Linked DNA regions of Homo sapiens: region 1 is linked to region 2. A link means that fine-mapping ties the variant in region 2 to the expression of a gene that starts in the linked region. Tissue or cell type: blood mononuclear cells. Region 2 holds a variant in brackets; the other region holds the start of a gene. All regions are shown on one strand. Distances are from middle to middle.

Region 1 (4,839 bases), 96 kb before region 2:
CTCTCGAATAGCTGGGATTACAGGCATGCACCACCACACCCGGCTAATTTTGTATTTTTAGTAGAGACGGCGTTTCTCCATGTTGGGCAGGCTGGTCTCGAACACCCGACCTCAGGTGATCCGCCCACCTCAGCCTCCCAAAGTGCTGGGATTACAGATGTGAGCCACCACGCCTGGTTAATTTTTGTATTTTTAGCAGAGATGGGGTTTCACCATATTGCCCAGGCTGGTCTCGAACTCCTGGCCTCAAGCGATCCACCAGTCTCGGCCTCCCAAAGTGCTGGGATTGCGGGTGTGAGCCACTGCACCCGGCCCAAATAGGGTCATATTCTGAAGCACTGGAAGTTAGGGCTTCAACATATCTTTGAGGGGGACACATTGCAACCCATACAGTATTCTTGGAACTGTAAATCGCGTTTTTGTACTAGAAATTCACTGCCCCTTTAGGCACTATGTATTCCTCTAATCTTATTTGTTACTCTTTTACGACTTTAAGAAATACAGAATTTGGTCAGTTTTAGCTGAGAGAGTAAACTTTGATGACTTGCATCAAACAGGGACTGGCACACAACTCCTGGAATTTCCAGTAAGAGAATGTGAATGGGGGACAGTTGCCGACTAGGTGCCTGAAAGATCATTTTTCAAGAAACACGTCAACAAACTTTGAGGGATACATGATAATTAAAAAACTAGCTTCAACCCGGGAGGCGGAGGTTGCAGTGAGCTGAGCCAAGATCGTGCCAGTGCGCTCCAGACTGTGCGACAGAGTGAGACTCCGTCTCAAACAAACAAACAACTAGCCCTTATAATCTTTTTTTTTTTTTTTTAGACAGGTGCATCTTTACACAGTTAAATTTCACTACTTCTTTTTTTGCAGATAAAAACTCAGGAGTTGAGAAATGAATAAACATAATAATAAATATGAGAAAACCATCATGATTTATCAAGCCTGGATAAATAATTTAATAAGTTCAGCATAGAAGACCTTGCTTTTTTTTCTTTCCTCCTTTTCTTCTTCTTTTTTTTTAACTTATTTATTTCAATAGGTTTTTGGGGAGCAGGTGGTGTTTGGTTACATGAATAAGTTCTTTAGTGGTGATTTGAGAGTTTGGTGCACCCATCACCTAGGCAGTGGACACTGCACCCAATGTGTAGTCGTTTATCCCTCACCTACTCTCACCCTAGCCCTTATAATCTTAAGATTTTTGGCTATTTAGGGCCATCTCATTCCTCCCTCCCTTCTTTGTTGCATTCTCTCTCACCTACTCCATTCCCCCCACCTTCCAAGTAAGACCATCTTTGGTAAGATGGTCTTGGTAAGAATGTGATACGCATTATAATAATTTTTCAAATCTTCAAAATTGAGGTATAATTACATACAATAAAATGAGAATGGCATGCAAATTTGTGCCTTTTTTAAAGCTTAGTAAATGTCATAATTTGGTTATAGTTTTTATTTTTCTGGATGCATTTGCTTTTCCTTACATCTACCATGCTCAGCCTTACAGAGATTTTTCTAGATGAATTTGCTTTTTCTCACATCTACCATGCTCGGCCTTACAGAGCTGCCCTTTATTTTAGAATTCCCTAAAGTGCTGTGTTGTACACAGGGAGCTTCTCCTGACTGGAACAACCTTACCTGGTACCACTCTTCCTTCAGGACCCAGATTCTTCTTTGAAACCTTTCCCTGGCCCCTTTGAATACTCTAGCTCTTTTAAAATGTATGTGGTTCTTTTTTCCCTGTTCAATTATTAATCTAACTAGGTTGTGAGTTCCTCCTCCAAGGACGTGAGGGTGCGATGTAGCTTGTCTGATTTTGCATTCCAAGTGTGTGCCCCAATGCCTGACACATAGTAGGTGCTCAATATATGTTTACTGTCAATAAGTTACAATTAACACCCCCATATGGTAATTCAGAGTTTTCATAGCGCGGTCAAACGATCTCATTTAACGCCTACTACAACCCTAAAAAATTCTAATTACTACCATCCTATCATTCTTGTTTGTAGAGTGTGGAGACTGAGAGGTTAACTGTCTTGCCCAGCGCAAGTCAACAGCAAAACGGAACTAAAATTTCAGGCTCGACACCACACAGCGTGTCGAGATCAGCACGAACTTGGCGCTGTGACTTTTCCTTAGAGGGGCCACTTAGGCTTACACTTCCGGATCCTGGGCACACAGAGACGCGAAAAGCTCCCGCGGGAAACTGGGGAGCGGGACTACATCTCCCAGAGAGCCCCGGGGCTAAACAGCAGGTGATTGGTTGATATTGACAGCCAATGCGGCTGCGAGGAGCTCGGGCAGACCAATCACAGGCCGGAAGGGGCGGGACCTCCCACGCCGAGGATAGATTGAGCGCAGAACTAACCGCGCTCTGAAAGGTTCTAAATGTCTGCGGGGCTCAGAGCCGGATGTCACGTCGTCCTCCTCTGCCGGTTTTCTCTTGGGTCCTTTTCCGTGCCGTCCCGCGACTCCGCCTCTGGCCGCGCGTGTCTGGCTGCTAGGCCGACACCAAGGACTGGCCGGGTACCCGGGAAGAAAGCACGTGCTCCAGCAGTTGCCGCGCCCAGCCCCGAGAGAGGCCCTAGGGCGCTGCGGGCTTTCGGGGTCCGCAGTCCCCCCGCGACGCGAGCCAACGGGAGGCGTCAAAAGACCCGGGCCTTGTGTGGCAGGCTCGCCTGGCGCTGGCTGGCGTGGCCCTTGGCCGTCGTCACCTGTGGAGAGCACGTCTTCTCTGCCGCGCCCTCTGCGCAAGGAGGAGACTCGACAACATGTCACCCGCGCTCCAAGACCTGTCGCAACCCGGTAACGCTGCGACCCCGTCTGCGTGGTTGGGTTGTGTTTCTTAACTCGTGCTGTGGCCTCCTAATCCCTGGGGCGATTCCCTTCTGCGGCGGGAGACGCCCGGCGGTGTTTCCCCGCGTGTGGGCGGCACCTTTAGAACTTAGCGCAGGAGCCCGGAGGGCTACGTGTTTTGCTCCACTCTTTGTCCGACCTTCACCTCTTTCTCCCCAGGCAAGCCATCAAAACCTGCAAAAAGCGTCCTCCCCTCGCCCCCGAAACACATTCTTAACGTCACAGTAACTAAACTTTCCAGTTCCACGCAGCATAAACCAGCTGGGCCCTCTGGAAGTTTTTTTTTTTGCATGGTGTGACGCTTATTCGTAAATATGTATTGCGCACCTACTGCGAAAGAAAGTTCAGGCGCGGAGAGACAGACGAGGAAACTCAGAGAACTATTTAAAACTACTACATGGAACTTTTTATTTTCTGCTTCTACGCACGCTGCTGCAAAACTGCAATATGCATAGACTCACTATGTTAAAATAGATGAGCAGACCCCACCTCCAGATACCGAAATGGGAGGTAGTAATTTCAAGCGATTCTGATGTTGGTGGCCCTGGGATCAACAGTGAGAAAAAGCTAGTTTAGCACGAGAACTGAACGTAATGTTAGCTTTATAACGAGCTCTAGATCTCTAAGGTCATGCCTGATTATAATTTGAGGACAAATACACCCGTAAAAACGGGTGAGGAGATGTAGAAACGAGAATTAGTGATAAGTACAAAACAGTAAATATCCTATCACATAGTGGGGATGTTTAGCTTCAGGAAGAGGGGGAATACTAAATTCGTAACGCACAAGGAAATTTATCAGAGGTTAACCGGTGACTCTCTTGATTCTTGGGTTCTGATAACGGGACTGATATAATTGTTCTTGAAACTAGTGGAACTGTGGCTGAGAAACACATCACTGCTGTTATTAAATAAGATATAAACCTCCCTATGAGAGGTTTATATGTTATTTAATATATTAAATAAGATGTAATGAGGTTACATCTTATTTATATTTAATATTTAATTAATAAATGTAAACCTCCCTATAAGAGATTTATATCTTATTGAATAAATGATCATAGGGAGATCATATTTATTTGGAAAACATCTTTTACTCATGATTTCTGGCCTCCCCCTTCCCATTTAATTTAAACAAGTAAAGTTATTTCCCTTTCATCTGAATTTAGGTGTCATTATCAGGAGCAAAATGCCACTGAAGACTTAAAATACTGTGAATAGTGAGTGATTTAAAAAAAAAAAATAAACTGAAAGGAAAATTGTTGAATGTTTGAATCTTGCCTAGTCCCCTCACCCCCAAGGCTGGCTTCTAGAGTTGAGCACTGAGTGGAGTTTAACCAAGTCTAGGGCCTCTGAAGTTCTGAATCAGGCCATTGTGCCTAGAAAAGACCTTAGATGTAGTCCAGCTTCTGTCTATGTGAGCAACTTTTATTGGGATTAGAATCAGGTTTTAACTTCCTAATAACCCTTAGTAATTTACTGGCGTACAATCTTAATGAAATTTTAATGGAGAGCTGGGAATTCCTGATTCTCAAGGTTGGGCCTTAAAACTAAATGTGACTTCAGACCATGGTTGTGTGCCCTGGGGAAGGAGGATGGTGGGCTAGCAAATACATCTTGGGAGAAAATTTTAACTACAGCTTCTAAAAGTTTCTTGGTTTCATCCTTGCTTAGGACTGTGAGTGTTATTTGGAACTCAATTGATGAGTGATTAATGAAGGAATGAATAATCCAGTGAATTGGTATCAATTGATGAGTGATTAATGAAGGAATGAATAATCCAGTGAATTGGTATCAGCCTAATTCTTCTCCGGCTTATTAAAATCAAAGGGGGAAATAATATATATTAAAAATGGAATACTGCACAAGCAAAGAGATGCCCCCAAAGAAGCTGGGCGCGGTGGCTCATATCTGTAATCCCAGCACTTTGGGAGGCCGAGGCGTGCGGGTCACCTGAGGTCAGGAGTTCGAGACCAGCCTGGC
Region 2 (5,417 bases):
CCTTGTCTTCATTTGTGCAAGTGAGGATTAACCCGTCTGTCTTTCCTTCTTGGGCAGGGGGTGGGGATGGAAGGGTTGAGGGAACAGTTTCCAAGGGTGGTGTAGTCAGCTGCATGTGAAGAATAGTTTTATTTAAGACTCAGTGCAGAATTACTCCTTCTCCACGATAATTTAAAGTTCCCCTCTTTGTAAAACAACTCCTACGGGTGACAGGAGGGAGGCGGAGTGTGGGAGTTGGCAGAGCAGTGAGGAGCTGGCAGGGAGGCCTCCATCAGGCAGGGTGCCAGCGTCAGCATTGACAACCATACTTCTCTCCTGTAGTGAAGCCCACGTTTATTGGGACCCAGGTCTTTGAAGACTATGACCTGCAGAAGCTGGTGGACTACATTGACTGGAAGCCTTTCTTTGATGTCTGGCAGCTCCGGGGCAAGTACCCGAATCGAGGCTTTCCCAAGATATTTAACGACAAAACAGTAGGTTAGTGCAGTAAGTCCTTCCTTTCTGCCTCTGATATTCAAGCTGTGGGATTGTGACTTTGAAGACCGGAATCGGTGAGGAGCAGTGGATTTGGATTGTGCAGATTACGGCTGCTTTCATATTGCTCACCTGCCCAACTTTTTAATGGTTTTCAATCTGCTAGATTGGTCCTTATTGCATCAACTAAATTTGGTATTTACTTTATTCTTTCAATAAATGTTTATTGACATCAGTTACATGCTGAGCACTAGGGATAAATGGAAGACAATATAATCCCTGCTGTCTAGCACCTGACTAGCTGGCACATCCAATAGTAATGGGCCCTGCCTGGGCTCCTGTGGACATAAGAGGAGATAGAGCTCAGACTGGGAGGTCAGGGCAGGCTTCCTGGACAAGGTGGTGTTCGAACTGTTTTTGACGATTCAGTGGGAGTTGCCGTGGCTGGGACTGTGGATGTGATATGGTGTTGAAGAAAAGGTCATTCCAGGTAGAGGAGACAGTGTGAGAAGGCACAGGCACATGTGCCTATTTGGGGAACTGCAAGGAGCCCATTGTGCTTGGAGCATTGGGGAGGGAATGGGGATTTAGGGTGATAAACTAGAGAAGTAAGTGAGGTGTTAAATTACTACCCCCACTTCTCACTTCTAGCCTTACCCCAGAATCCACCGACAGAGACACGGAATCCAAATGCAAAGCCATTCAAAGGATCAGGTAGTAGCCAGATCAGAGCAGCAGGGAGGGGTAGACTCACAGAAGCATGGGATTAGGGCTGAGAGGAGCCTAGAAACCAGCCTTTTGCCAAGTTTCCCACGGGGGGGCGTGCCTGGGTGTGCGTGTTCGGATGCTGAGACTCAGGAACTCTCAGGTAGTCAGGAACGTGGTGATGAGCAAGGGGCTTCTTAGTGTGCTGCCCCTGAATCATCACAGGTGAGCTGTCCAGGGGCCGTGGGACAGGCTTCTCACCATGGGCAGGGTGGCCGAGTCTCACGGAAACCGAGATGGTGTCCTCGGAGGCTGGCTCCCACTGCAGGTCCGGGAGCAGGCCAGCCCAGGTGCAGCATTGAAGCCACATGTGAGGATTTGGGCCACACTTCACCCCTTACCACTAACGTTCCCTGTACACATACAATTCCACTGACTTCACAGCGACCTCTGGGGGACGGGGCCTGTGCCTTATATTCACCATGCTTTGTATTCTGTGGTGTCTGGGCCTGGACGCATACAGTGAGGATTTACCGAGTCTGAGTGCATAGGGTGAGGATGTAGCTGTCCTTGTTTAACTCTTCATGGTACTGTTGAAGGCCCCAAATTGAAGAATCCCTTCAGAGGTTGTTACGGTCAAAATGTCAATCGTTACGAATTATATTGTAGTTGGGATTAAAAGCACCACGGAATACGAGGCACAGGTCGCGTCTCCCAGAGGTCACTGCAAAGTCAGTGGAGTTGTATGTGCACGAGGAATGTCAGTGAGGAATGTGGCCTGCTCTTTCTCATCCTCTCTGACAGAATGCTTTGGGGAGCCACAGCTTTGGCTCTCTGCTTTTTGTCCAGTGGAAAACTTGAGTGGCTTGAACTGGGAGAAGCAGACTGTGGGAGCTGCACTTAGCAGGAGCCGCAAAGCCCTGGCTGTTCCACTTTAAGCTGGGTCAGTGGCAAACACCAGAAAGCATTTGAGGAAAATGGAGAAGCCTGAAGAGGGAAGGTGACTGAGGAGGGGTAATGGCTTTTAAAAGAAGCATTGTTTGATGGTTATTTTTGGCATCTTTAAGTGAATTCTAATTCTGTTTTTCTAATAGGTGGAGAGGCCAGGAAGGTCTACGATGATGCCCACAATATGCTGAACACACTGATTAGTCAAAAGAAACTCCGGGCCCGGGGTGTGGTTGGGTTCTGGCCAGCACAGAGTATCCAAGACGACATTCACCTGTACGCAGAGGCTGCTGTGCCCCAGGCTGCAGAGCCCATAGCCACCTTCTATGGGTTAAGGCAACAGGTATGGAAGGTGTACTGACAGCCAGCACACCGCTTTCGCTTGTGAGTTTAAGCACTACACAAAAGAGCTTTGCATAAATGAGGGTCTGCTTCACCTCCTCCCAAATGACCAATCACATGCCCAAGAAGTGACCAGTCACACGCCCAAGCCCAAGCCATCTGTGAGGACGAGGGAGAGAAGGCGCCACCATGGGTGTCAGAGGCAGGACCACTCAGCAGGAGTGAGGCGTTTAATATTGTGTTCCATGGATGGGCGAGGACCATTGCTGCTGTCTCAGGTGGTCACGTGTCAGGATCTCAGTCTTCTTAGCTTCTGAAGAAAGAGAACACTCACTTGTTCAAAAACGTAGGTTAATATCTATGCATATTATTAAAATAGACTGTCAGGTGGCTTCCCTTGAAAGGGGAAGACAGGTGGAAACAAACATTTGCAGAATGTATACCAGGTGCCAGGTGCATAGTAAGGTGCTTGATGGTCATGCTTTTAATTTCCACACAGCCGTGTGAGGCAGTTTAAGTTTGTGTTTTACAGAGAAGATGAAGGATGATGGAGATTGTGCTGGGCCCCCCAATATAGAGAGGAGAGCCCAGCCTGTACATATCCCCAGTGGCCGTTCTTTGACTGTGCTGGCTTTTTTTCTTTCGAGTGACGAGAACAGACTCTTCTCAGCAACTT[G/C]TCTCTCATCCCCCCCACCTTTGAAAAGGCAAATATCATATGCATGTCCCTTTAGCTGCTGTAAAAAAGAGTGTCTTAATCAAGAATTGGAACCAGAATTCACCAGAGTCATTAACAAATTTAATAATTTGCAGAAAATTACTCTGTTTTACTGCCATTTTCAGTCGTTCAGAAATAATAATGTTGGCTGGGCACAGTGGCTCACACCTGTAATCCCAGCACTTTGAGAGGCCAAGGTGGGAGGATTGCTTGAGCCTAGGAGTTTGAGACTAGCCCCGGCAAGATGGCAAGACCCTGTCTCTACAAAACAAATTTAAAAATGAGCCGTGCACTGGGGAGTGCAGGCCTGTACTTCTTCAGCCAGCTACTCGGGAGGATGAGGCGGGAGGATCACTTGAGCCTAGGAGATCGAGGCTGCAGTAAGCCATGATCATGCCACTGTATTCCAACCTGGGCAACAGAGTGAGACCCTGTCTCTAAAAAACAAACAAAAAAGATAGTGGCGCATTTTAATCCCAACCACAATATAATTCATAATCATCCATATTTTTACCATAACAGCATCTGAAGGGATTCTTAAATTTGGGGCCTTCAGCAGTACCATGAAGAATTAAACAAGGACAGCTACATCCTTACCATATGCACTTAGGCTCAGTAAATCCTCACTGTATGCGCCCAGGCTCGGACGCCACAGAATATAAGGCACTGGGGTTCTAATGTTAAGTTCCAGCCCCTCCTCACTAGGGAATTTGTGGCTATTCTTTTACAGACATAACTGTTCAAAAACCTCTGCTCTAGCCCAGTCTTTCATCTTTCAAGTCCTGTGTCCTCTGCGATCTCTTTTTACTTTCAGTACCATTCATGTCCGGGCAGTCTGTGACATATTAGGGCATTTAATAGAATGAATTCTCAGAGTTCACCTTTTTAGTAGCCTCTGGAGAGGGGAACTGGGCCAGGCACATACATTACCTACCCAGGTAGCAATTTCTCAGGAGGGGCTTTCCTCCAGTGCACTCTGGAACATTCTGGTGGCAGTGCCTTATTACTCTGGGAGTCTGCTCTTCTGAGTAGGCTCTGATTGCTGTCTCTTCGAAGGTACCATGGGGCTCTGTGATCTCTCTCTCCTGTGGCGCAGGGAAGCTTTGGGTCCCCCTCTGGCCTTTGTTAGCAAAGAATAATTGATGGGCCGAGTATACCTGGAAAACGGCTTCCCCATGCACAGCTGTCCCTGAGCTCTGTGACATTCCTGTGTGCCATTACCAAACACCTCCTCGCCTGTACTTAACAATTTCCTGCCCTGTGTCAATGAAGCTGTACTTGCTTCCACGGCGGGCAACGAGCTGTGAAGTGTGTGGGTTGGCCACTCATTGATTAATTGATCAGTCCTGAGCAGTACCATATATGTAGACGCATGGGTTGTGGTACCAGCCCCCTGGCCCCTCCCACTGTCTGACCTTGGGCCAGTTGATCAAGCTTCCTATGCCCCTGATTTCTTGTCTGTAAAATGGAGCTGATGGTATCACCTATGTCACAAGGTGGTTGAGAGGGTTAAATAGTAATTCATATAAAGCACCAAGAGCAGGCATACAGTAACCACTGAATGAGTATTATAAGCTATTTACCTTCTCAGCAAATATTTATTGATTTTTTTAATATGTATAAGACTTTATTTGTTACCTTAGTTGCAGGGAAGAGTTGCTTATGAGCTGAGGGTGAAAAATGGGGGAGGGTAGGCCCCAGGGCTGTGGAGAAAATCCAGAAGCAAATCCTGCTGAATTCTTGGTTTGGTGCCCAGCCAGCCCTGGGTGTCCTCAGCCGGCTCCTGTATGACCCTTGACCCCACCCCACATGGCAGGCAGCACATGGCCTGGGCATCGCTGACCCCAACAGTTTGTTGTTTGAGCTGCTGCTGTTGATGGAGAGTGGAGGCGCTTCCATTTATTGGATCTCTTTTGAACATGGTGCTGGACTTAATTGAAAACACTTGGGGACAAATTTTTTTTTTTTTTTAAACCGTGACTTTAGCACAGTGCCTGAAGGCATTCAGTAAATGTTTGGTCAGTGTGTGAATGAGCCAGTGAACTGGTGTCTTGACAATTTATGTTACGTCATGTCATACATTTTTTAAAAATCTCATTTCATTTGTTTATCTTACAAATATTTATTGGATACTCACTATGTGTCAGACACAATTCCAAGTACTGGGGATGTAACAGTGCACAATACAGGCTGCCATCTGTGCGTTGTGAAGCTTATTCTCATTTGACGATAC

What was found. PIP is the estimated chance that this variant, and not a neighbour inherited with it, causes the effect.
Region 1: it holds the start of MTR, and the variant in region 2 is fine-mapped to the expression of MTR in blood mononuclear cells (TOPMed, PIP above 0.99).

The regions. Positions count from the first base shown.
Region 1 is chr1:236,792,932-236,797,770 of GRCh38, forward strand. It overlaps MTR (5-methyltetrahydrofolate-homocysteine methyltransferase), which reads left to right and starts at 2,361. Exons shown (of 33, transcript NM_000254.3): 1 at 2,361-2,806. The coding sequence starts at 2,773. RefSeq lists enhancers at 2,387-2,676, 2,777-2,966.
Region 2 is chr1:236,888,860-236,894,276 of GRCh38, forward strand. MTR (5-methyltetrahydrofolate-homocysteine methyltransferase) reads left to right here. Exons shown (of 33, transcript NM_000254.3): 28 at 322-477; 29 at 2,274-2,470. Among named protein-coding and RNA genes, the nearest start is that of MTR, 96 kb to the left of the region's middle. The variant G/C (reference allele first, on the strand shown) is at 3,146.